Linked DNA regions of Homo sapiens: region 1 is linked to region 2. Evidence: fine-mapped expression QTL. A gene starts in region 2. The other region holds a variant in brackets. All regions are shown on one strand. Distances are from middle to middle. Region 1 overlaps AKAP13 (A-kinase anchoring protein 13). Region 2 holds the start of KLHL25 (kelch like family member 25).

What was found. PIP is the estimated chance that this variant, and not a neighbour inherited with it, causes the effect. A credible set is the group of variants that fine-mapping cannot tell apart.
Region 1: its variant is the best candidate, but not a certain one, in a credible set for the expression of KLHL25 in whole blood (INTERVAL, PIP 0.77).

What each region holds. Positions count from the first base shown.
Region 1 is chr15:85,631,480-85,636,858 of GRCh38, reverse strand. All of the region lies in intron 8 of AKAP13 (A-kinase anchoring protein 13), which reads right to left. Among named protein-coding and RNA genes, the nearest start is that of LINC02883, 120 kb to the left of the region's middle. The variant A/TTTGA (reference allele first, on the strand shown) is at 2,637.
Region 2 is chr15:85,792,945-85,798,323 of GRCh38, reverse strand. It overlaps KLHL25 (kelch like family member 25), which reads left to right and starts at 3,399. Exons shown (of 3, transcript NM_022480.4): 1 at 3,399-3,558. RefSeq lists silencers at 3,209-3,278, 3,429-3,728.

The sequences.
Region 1 (5,379 bases), 160 kb after region 2:
CAGATCACTTCAGGTCAGGAGTTCAAGATCAGCCTGGCCAACATGGTGAAACCACATCTCTACTGAAAATACAAAAATCAGCCAGGTGTGGTGGTGGGTCTCTGTAATCCCAGCTACTAGGGAGCCTGAGGCATGAGAATCACTTGAACCCAGGAGGCAGAGGTTGCAGCGAGCCGTGATTGTGCCACTGAACACCAGCCTGGACAACAAAGCAAGAATCTGCCTCAAAGGAAAAAAAAAAAATCAGCAAAATTCAACATCTATTCATGATAAAAACTCTCAGAACACTAGGAACAGAAAGGAAATTACTCAACCTGACAAAGGCATCTATAAAAAACCTACGGTTAACATTATATTTATTGGTGAAAGACTAAATGCTTTCATTCTGAGATCAGTAACCAAAGATGTCCATTCTCATCACTTTTATTCAACAATATTCTGGAGGTCCTATCCAGTGCAGTAAAGCAGAAAAAGAAAGAAAACGCATACCATTGGAAAGGAAGAAGTAAAACTTGGTTTATTCACAAATGGCGTGACTGCCTATGTAGAAAATCCTAAGGAATCTATAAAAATACTGGAATAAATAATGTATTAATAAAAGCAAGGTTGCCAGACACAAAGTCAACATACTAGCAATGAGCAATTAGAAATTGAAATTAAAAGTAAAAGCAATACCATTTACAAAAGCCTCAATAAATATAAAATAATTAGGGATAATTTTAAGAAAATATGAGTAAGACTCATACTCTGAAACCTTTATAAAACATTGTTGAGAAAAATTAATGCAGACTTAAATAAATACAGAGATTCCATGAGATCAGAAGACTCAATACAGTTGTTAATTGTCCTCAAATTGATCACTACATGATTTCAAGACATACTATAAAAGCTGCACTAACCAAACCGGGGTGATATTAAACAGCAGACATATAGATCAATGGCAGAGAAGAGAGAATCCACAAACAGACCTTCACAGATATGGCCCATTGATTCCTGACAAAGATGCCAAGATATTTTAATGAGGAACAAATAGTCTTATGAACAAATGATGCTATAACGACTGGATACTAATATGTAAACAAATACAACTCCCCAAGATCTAAAATCTTACCCCAAACCTTACCACCTATAAAAATGAACTCAGAATACTTTATATATCTAAATGTTCAACCTAAAACTATAAAACTCCTAAAGAAGACAGAGGGAAACACTTTTATGGGAACTTCGGTTACACAAAGATTTCTTAAATAGTACATTTTTTAAAACATGAAAAAAAAGGATAAATCTATGTCAACCTTAAAAACTTTTACTCCTCAAAAGCCACTGTTAGGAAAACAAAAAGGTAAACTAAAAACTGAAGGAAAATATTTATAAAACAATTATCTGCTAAGAACTCCTACCCGGAATATTTAAAAATAAAAGAAACTCTTACAATGCAGTAACAAAGCAACATGATTTTTTAAATGGGTAAAAGATTTGAATAAACATTTTATTTAAAAAGATATACGAAAGGCAGATAAGCAAAAAAAAGATACCCAACATCATTAATCCACAGGAAAATGTAAATTAAAATCACAAGGACATAGCAGCAGACATCCATTACAAGAGTCAAAATTTGAGACTGATAATACCAAATGTTGGCAAAGATGTGGAGCAACTAGAACACAGTACTGTTGCTGAAAGAAAGCAAAATAGTACAGCCATTTTGGGAAAGCAGTTTAGCAGTTTTTCATAATGTCAAACATATACTTACATACAACATAGCATTCCATTCATTTACCGAAGAAGAATCAAAACCTACTGTCACACAAAGACTTGCACTGGAATTTTTAAAGCGCTTTAATTCATGAGAGCTCCAAACTAGAAACAGTCCAGATTGCCATCAAATGGTAAATGGATAAGCAAATTATAATATATCCATACAATGTTATAGATTCATAGAAAGAAGAAATGAACTGCTGATACAAACAACATGGATGAATCTCAAGAGTATTACGGTAAGTTAAAAAAAAAAAAAAGCCAGACTCAAAAGACTATGTATTGTATGGTTCTATCCATGCAATATCTAGAAAAGGCAAGCCTACAGTAGCAAGAAAACATTAGTGATCAGCAGAGAATGAAGGAGAAGACTGACTACAGGGAGACAGAACAGAACTTCTGAGCTGACAGAAGTGTTCCTATTATGATGCGGTAGTGATTACACAATTTAAATATTTGTCAAGGCTCACCAAACTATAAACTTATATTGGTTAATTTTGTTGTATGGAAATTTATACCAGAATAAAGCTGAAAACAAATACATTCTCAAAAACAGAAGTATAAAATATAAAATAAATTTTAGTCTTCACAATTCCCACACACCTTAACATTATAACCCTTTAATCATTAAAACTGACATACTTAGATGTAATTCTAAATAATATGAGCAGAAATATCTAAACAAACTACTAAGTAGTTGTGAATATTTGTATGCTCAAAGACAGAAGCCTTGATTTTATTCAATAACCTCTAAAATATATTTCTGATCACTTTAGTGAGAATCTTAAACTCTTCTGCTGACAAAGATCAACAGTTTTACTGTATATGCTAAGTGGCATAAGGCAGAAAGCTAGAGACATTTTGTCAAATTATAACTG[A/TTTGA]CAATAAAATGAATGAAAGGAATTAAACTGCTTGCAAATAACCAGGCAAACTAGAACCACATGAAACAAAACACTTTATCATTTGCTCTGTTCAGCTATTTTACTATTACAGAGAGCAAAAACAGCAAGAATCAGGGGCCATCAAGGTTTCAGTTCCTGGTGTGTTACAAAATGATGCCAAAAATTTAAAAGTAATCCTGAATGGAACTGAATCTTCAGCAGGTGCCCTGGGATTACACATATTTAAAAATATCCTTTCTGAAAGGTACTTTAAGGTATACACAATAAGGAAGTAACCACAAATTTTGTAACTTTACCAACACCCTATCCACATCTTTCAAAGAATTGAAACAACACATTTTCCTTTTTAAAAAAAAAAGGCCGGGTGCAGTGGCTCATACCTGTAATCCCAGCACTTTGGGAGGCCGAGGTGGGCAGATCACGAGGTCAGGAGATCGAGACCATCCTGGCTAACACAGTGAAACCCCGTCTCTACTAAAAATACAAAAACATTAGCCAGGCGTGGTGGCGGGCGCCTGTAGTCCCAGCTACTCGGGAGGCTGAGGCAGGAGAATGGCGTGAACCCGGGAGGCTCAGCTTGCAGTAAGCCGAGATTGTGCCACTGCACTCCAGCCTGGGTGACAAAGAGAGACTCCGTCTCAAAAAAAAAAAAAAAAAAAAAAAAAAGAAAAAAAAAGTCATTCAGAGAATTTTCTCTTAATTTCAAATGGCATTTCATTTGCAATGAGCCAAATTTTACTTACTGTGAAATAAGATTCTCTGCTAATAGAACCACTGTACTGCAATACAAAACTACACTTTTAAGCTGGAAGGGAAAAAATTACTCCCCCCCCGCCCCTATTATTCCTGTAATAAGAAGAGGCTGCATGAATACAGCAACAAGTTTAGTTTACAGAAATAAAAGAGCTCAGATGATTCTTTAGTGATAAGTAAAGAATGTGGAAATGAACTACTACGAATTACCATATTACTGTCTCTTACCTTGACCTTCAACAAGGGGCCAACAGTTTAGAAAACCCTATTAAAATTCTATTTCTGCCGGGCGCGGTGGCACATGCCTGTAATCCCAGCACTTTGGGAGGCCGAGGCAGGCGGATCACAAGGTTAGGAGTTCGAGATCATCCTGGCCAACATAGTGAAACCCTGTCTCTACTGAAAAAATACAAAAATTATCTGGGCGTGGTGGCACATGCCTGTAGTCCCAGCTACTTGGGAGGCTGAGACAGGAGAATCGCTTGAACCATGGAGTCAGAGGTTGCAGTGAGCCAAGATCACGCCACAGCACTCCAGCCTAGCGACAGAGCAAGATTCCGCCTCAAAAAAAAAAAAATTTTATTTCTTAGAATACTTTTCATTACCTTCTCAATACCACATGTCATTCCACAGCCAATGAGTAAAGTGAACATTATTTGCCTTGAATATGCAAGCAACTAAGACTCTCTATACTTTTCCTGTCATTTTAGGTACATGTGTTACATAAAGTGAGTTTCATATTTTACAAAATTATATACAATAAACACATACTACTAGAACAAAATTAAAGTTACATATCTTTAAGTAAATATGCTAATTTCTGAGTAACAGTGATGAGAACATAATAACAGTGATGAGAACATAATCATGTTGGAAAACAATTCTCCATGTCCCTCTTGCATTTCTGCAGGTTTTATCAGCAAAAGCCCTGATGGTCCTTTTATTCTAGACTATCTTTTCAAGACTGTTTGTATATCAAACACCCTTAGAAGATAAAAATACTGTTTCCTTCCGAAGCAAAGGGCAGGTTTGTTTCTGTCCAGTATTATAAAGATAATGTCTCAGTCAAGGGCAAAGGTCACACAGGCTTACTGTCCACTGTATAAAAATTCAGATTTCTTCAGGTTTAGATTTCTCAGCTGTGACACAGCATCAACCTGGACCCCTTCGTGTTGCCTGCATAGGGCTTAGGAAGCAAGGAGAACCAACGAGAAGGTGATGCTGATGCTGCTGGCTATGCAATGAGTAATACATTTACCTGTCTCTGACCCTAGAATGCCATGACTTCAGCCAGCACCCATGAAACTGTGTCAGGATGTAAGTTAACTTGCCAGCTTGCAAGTACGGAACAATTTCCGATCCACCACATTAACAATTAGTATATATTATATAGTATTAAAAATTTTACACACAGTGGCAGCCAAAAATCTCTTGACATGTTACACTTCTGTGGTGCAATCTCCTAATCTATTTTCAATTGGGTGGATATGTCTGAACGACCACAAAGAGACAACTTATATTCCTTTTAACTTTCCTGTAGTTTCCCAAATTTTCTTCAATGGTTATATATTTCTTTTATTTTTAAAAAATTTATCTTGATAAACTTATTTTGTAACAACTTCAGGCTGATACAAAAAATAGTATACATAAAAAGTAGAAATAACTTTAGTTTGCAAAGACAGCACAGAAAGTTCCCGTTTATCCCCACTCCCTTCCTCACTGGTTTCTCCAACGTTAACATCTTACATAACCATAACACAGTTGTCAATACTAAGAAACCAACACTGGTACATTACTATTAAGTAAACTCCGGACTTTATTTGGATTTCACTTGTTTTCCCATTAGTGTTCTCTTTCTGTTCCAGGATCCCATCCAAATCACCACATTGCATTTAGTGTGTGTGTGTGTGTGTGTGTGTGTGTGTGTGTGTGTGTGTGTGTGTGTGAGAGAGAGAGAGAGAGAGAAAGT
Region 2 (5,379 bases):
GTGGGCAGATCACCTGAAGTCGGGAGTTTGAGACCAGCCTGACCAACATGGAGAAACCCCGTCTCTACTAAAAATACAGAATTAGCCAGGCGTGATGGTGCATGCCTGGTGATCGCAGCTACTCGGGAGGCTGAGGCAGGAGAATCGCTTGAACTCGGGAGGCAGAGGTTGTGGTGAGCTGAGATTGCGCCATTGCACTCCAGCCCGGGCAACAAGAGTGAAACCCCATCTTTAAAAAAAAAAAAGAACCAAGAATTTGATCATCTATTAACGAACATATATTGAATTCTATACATCATCCCAGAATTTCTGAGACTTCAGATTCTGGGCCACCAGGAATACTAGCTAGATGGCAATGCTGGGAGGAAGGTATTGGTAAGGATTGTTGGTGGACAACAGGCATCTATTCCCTCTTCCTTGTTAACAGAACCCTGACTTTGAGGAGGTGATGTACTAACATAAAAGTCTACATTTCCCAGCTGCTCTTGCAGGTAGGAAAACTAAATTCTGTCCATAAACAAAAGTGTTGTGTGGGACTTCTGCAGTCTGCATAAATAGAGCTAACCAGGCTGGAAGACACACATCTCATGCTCTTCCGCCATTATTCCTTCCTACTGTCTGGGATATAGGTGTCAGAGTTGGAGCCCTAGCAGCCATCTTGGACTATGGGGCAACCTTGCAAATGGGAACCAAGCATTACAGATGAAGGAATAAAAATACAGTAGCCCGTGTTTCTGACAACTGTGGAGTTGCCAACAAAGGATAGCTTAACTTTAGCTTTATTTTGCATAAGCAAGAAACTTCTATCTTGTTTCAGTCACAGTTAATTTTGGGTTTTCTGTCATATGCAGTAAAAACTAATTCTAACGGATATGAGATTTATTCACAGTATTTCAAAACTGTGTAGACAACTTTGATGCAGCCCTAAGAGTTCTGAGATGAATTCATGGTCCCTGCCCTCCCAGAGCTCCCTGCACAGCAGGTGGACTAGCTAAGCAGGCCATTACAACACTGGCTGGTAAGGGCTGCGTTGACGGTAATGCTCCAGGGTCCGCAATAGATGGCAAGGCAAACTTCCGCTCTTCCTCTCATCTTCTTTCAAATCGTACCTAAATTCGATTAACTCCACACGTGTTCTTAGTCTGATTTTGTCCCATTGCTTACACTGTATTTGATTTTAATATATTCTAGTACCTAATTTAAGCCTTGGAGTTGAAGAGAGAAAAAATTATAATGTGGACCAGATTTTACTGGGCGGTTGGCACTTATAATTTTACAGCGAACCTGCATAAAATAATAAGCAACAGTTATAAACTTGCCAAGAATCAATTTTGCATGTGGAGCTTCATTCAACCAACAATTCTATAAACACTCTAGTGCTAGAAAATCGGCAGGATAAAACTACAAATGTGATCTCTGTCATTTCCTTAATGAAGTAATTACTTTGATGCTAATGTGTTGGAGCTGGTTCCTTCCGGTGGGTTGGTGGTCTCGCTGACTTCAGGAATGAAGCTGCGGACCTTCACGGTGAGTGTTACAGCTCTTAGAGGTGGCGTGAACCCAAAGAGTGAGCAGCAGAAAAATTTACCGTGGAGAGCGAAAGAACAAAGCCCCCACAGCGCCAAAGGGGACCCAAGTGGGTTGCTGCTCCTGGCTGGGGGGCGGCCAGCTTTTATTAGCTTATTTGTCCAGGCCCATGTGCTGCTGATTGGTCCATTTTACAGAGTGCTGATTGGTCCGTTTTACAAACCTCTAGCTAGCCACAGAGTGCTGATTGGTGCATTTCTACAGAGCACTAATTGGTACATTTTACAAACCTCTAGCTAGATACAGAGCGCTGATTGGTGCATTTTACAATCCTCTTGTAAGACAGAAAAGTTCTCCAAGTCCCCACTGGACCCAGAAAGTCCAGCTGGCTTCACCTCTCACTACCTTTTCTCTTCAGAAGGCACCTTAACAGTGCACTTGGCAAGCTTCTTACCTCTGGCCAATATTGTTCATAAATATCAGAACCCTGGTGCCTTAGATGTCTGCAGATCTGGGCCAAATGGAAGCACAAATCTGTACTGAGCACTTACTACATGCCAGGCCTATTCCATATGTTATCTTAATCTTTCCCATACCCCTGCAAGAAAGGTTTTAGAATCCTCTTCACCAGTAAGAACCAGACACCAGAGAGTCTGAGCCATCTGCTTCAGTCCTACCCAGCTCTTGAGGGGCAGGGCGGGGCTTCAAACCCAGAACATCAAGCTGTTTCCCAAAAATGCCTTCCCTGGTGGTATCTTCTCATCATCTCCCAGTCTTTTAACCCTGGCATATCTGTCCTGTCTAAGCAGCTTTCTACCCAGGGGCTCTATTTCCCAGGTTCCACTAGTCACAATCCTATCCCCTCTCCCAAATCTTTGTACACTTTCTTAGACCTTCCTTGCACCTCCCACCTCCACCTCCGTCAGGGTGACCTCTGCTTCCTGGGAATTTCCCCGCCCCAGGCTTGGCTCTTTCGTTCTTATCACTTTCTATGCTTTACCTTTTGTATCCTTAAGCAACCTACTTGAATTATCGATTTTCATTGGGAGGGAGAAAAGAGAGGACATTTATTGCGCACTCATTTGTCTGGGAATTTGTCTCCTTTAATCCCCCAAATAATCCGATGAGGAGTTTTTATCTGCCGCTTTACGGATGAGATTGGACACACACAGTAAGCTGAAGTAGTAGTCAGGAGGGAAAAGGACGAAGAATCACAAACCGTTCTCCCCCTCCAAGATGAGTGCATGGTGTGGGCGTCCAGGAAACGTTCCTGGAAGAAATTATTGGATGGATGGATGAATGAATGAATGAACGAACATTTAAAGGCTGGCTTACGAAAGGAGTTTAGTGAGAAATGACACAGAGAGGAGAGCTGAAATACTCCAAAAAATACAGATTTCAAGTACAGGTGGGGTTTGGAGGCTGCAGAAAGTCCCAAACATTCAAACAAGCCCAGAGTGAAAGACAGGGTTTCATTAACACTCGGGCAACTACTAGTGTGGCTCTGAAGAGTCTAAAGAGATCTACAACACTTGTGACCCGAACACAAAAGAGGCATATGCAATCTACAGTGCTCCCTCTGGAAAGCTCTAGAACACCGTCGCGTTTTGTTCCCAAACTTGGGCGGCGGGGTTGGGCAGGCGCCTGTCTCTTTAAGAATCTGGTCGAAGTCCTTTTCCTCGCCCCGCCCCGCCCCCGGTCCCCCCCCCTCCCCGCCCCCGGCCCCCCACCCCCCGGTGCCGGCGCGGCCTGGGGCCCACCCCCTTCTTTTCTGCGGCTGCACTGAAGGGTTCGGCTGCCCATCCGTCACAGAGGCGATGCCTCTGATTGGCTGCTGCTCTTCGGGCCGGGAGGCGGGGCGGGAAGGCCGGAGAAACTAGTTTGTTGGCGGCGCCTAGGCTGTATCGCAGCGAGAGCGTTTTTGCCTGTGGAGAGCCGGCCGACGGGAGCCGCGGCGGAGCCTGTTGAGCTCGCGCGGGCTGCCGGGAGTGGTCTCTGAGGCGGCGGCGGCGGCGGGGATCGTCTCCGGCAGTGAGTATCCAGGCCGGGCGGGGACGCCGTGCTCTGGCCGCAGCACCCGCGCCCCCGCTCCCTGCGCTGGGGACTCACCACCCCGGGCCGGGCCGGGACCAAGCGCTCGGAGCCCCCGCGGGACTACGTGTCCCGGGAGGGGGCCCCGCGGCTGGGGCCGGGGCCCTGGGACAATGGTGGGGAGCGGCGGCCGGCCGGCACCCCGCGGCTCCGCGAGGGAATTCGCCGAGAGCTCTGCGCGAGGGAATGAATTGTTTGGCAAATGGATGTTGCGCGCGGGAGCCGCTACTCTTTCCCCAGGGAGTGGTTGATTCATTGAGTCCGCAGACTCTTTTTTTTAAAAAATTACTATTGATCCTGGAAAGAGAGACTGCTTGTCTTTGAGGACGCGAGCGGCGATGCCCCGCGCCTTGGACGCCCAGGCCGGATGGCTGCCTGCCTGGCGCAGAGCGAGGGCCCGGGGTTCACAAGGGGAGGGTTTGCGCGGGCCTGGCCGCGGAGCCCCGAGCCGTTCACGTTCCGCCTGCCAGGGTCCCTCGTTTCGGTTTGCAGAACTGTCCAGCGGCAGAGAAAGGTCGCACTCAAAGGCACACCCACCTGTCCACCTGGGTGGCGGCCAGACTGGCAGGTCCAGAGCAAGCCCTCTAGCCTGACTCTAATTACCACACTTGCCCTGGCTCCGAGACACACCGCGCGATGTTACGCCCCCACTCCCCCTGTCTCTTTCGTAGTTGCTTTAGAAGCTTTTCTCTTGGGGGATTGTGCCCGGGAGATACCAGATACTTTTTTTGTGTTGCTGCTCTAAGCCCCCAAAGTGCATTCCCATTGTCTTTGAACAAAGAAACATCTCTCTAGAGGCCTGACCCAACGAACTGTGGGTGAGGGGGCGGACCCAGGCCCCTGCAGATTTAATCTGGACGCTCTTGGGTCCTGCTGGATCCCGGTGAATTTGACCTTGGGGAAGGCGGGCTGGACTTTGACTCTCCTCGGTAGTCAGGGCAGAGAATGCCAGGTGTCTGGACCATTTGGTTCCACTCTATCGGCCCAATAGAGAGAGGAAGGGAAGGAAGTTAGCAGTAGCACCAGGAGAGGAGGCAGGATTCCACGGTCTGTATCCTGGACCAGATTCCAGTGACCGTTATGGGGCCAAGCCCTCTGGGACCCTGGGTCCCAGTCTCCCCATTCATAGGAGGAACTGATGCTCAGTGTGCTGATCTGAGCTGTGAGGATTCCTGGCATGTTGGTGAAGGCTTGCGTGGGGGTCTGGGGAAGAGTAGGACACAAAGTCTACCCCACCTCAGGGTCCATTTGGTGTCCCAAGACCGGAGGCTCTTGGGTCCACAAGCTGTGCCTGTGAAGGTTGACGTAGTCAGTCTTTTTCCGGCCTGGCAGCTATTTCAGTTTTGAGTCATTTGTCAGGCAGTGACTCCAGGGTGGTTGATAAAAGGGAGGTAGAAATGGAAGACACCTTCATCCTGGGGTCTTGGGCTGCAGTTGGATTTATGTATGTGGTGCGGAGAGAAGAGCTATAGGCAAATTGCATGCTCCACATCGGAAGCAGGTTCTGCAGCCCGATGCCCCTTAATAGCGTTTTAAATCTGCGGGCACCCCGTGTGGGCAGAAGAGAGCAGGAAGAAAAGAGAACAATTACCCAGTGAAAGCAAGCTTGGTTCGTCCCGTCTATCACTTGGGCGGGGGCGGGGGGAAGGGTAGGATGAGTGAGAGTGTTATTTAGTGGGTGGTTTGTGACTGATTGATTGATTGATTCATTGTTTGAACAGACTTGATTGGGCACCTGCTGTGTGCCAGGCCCTGAGTTAG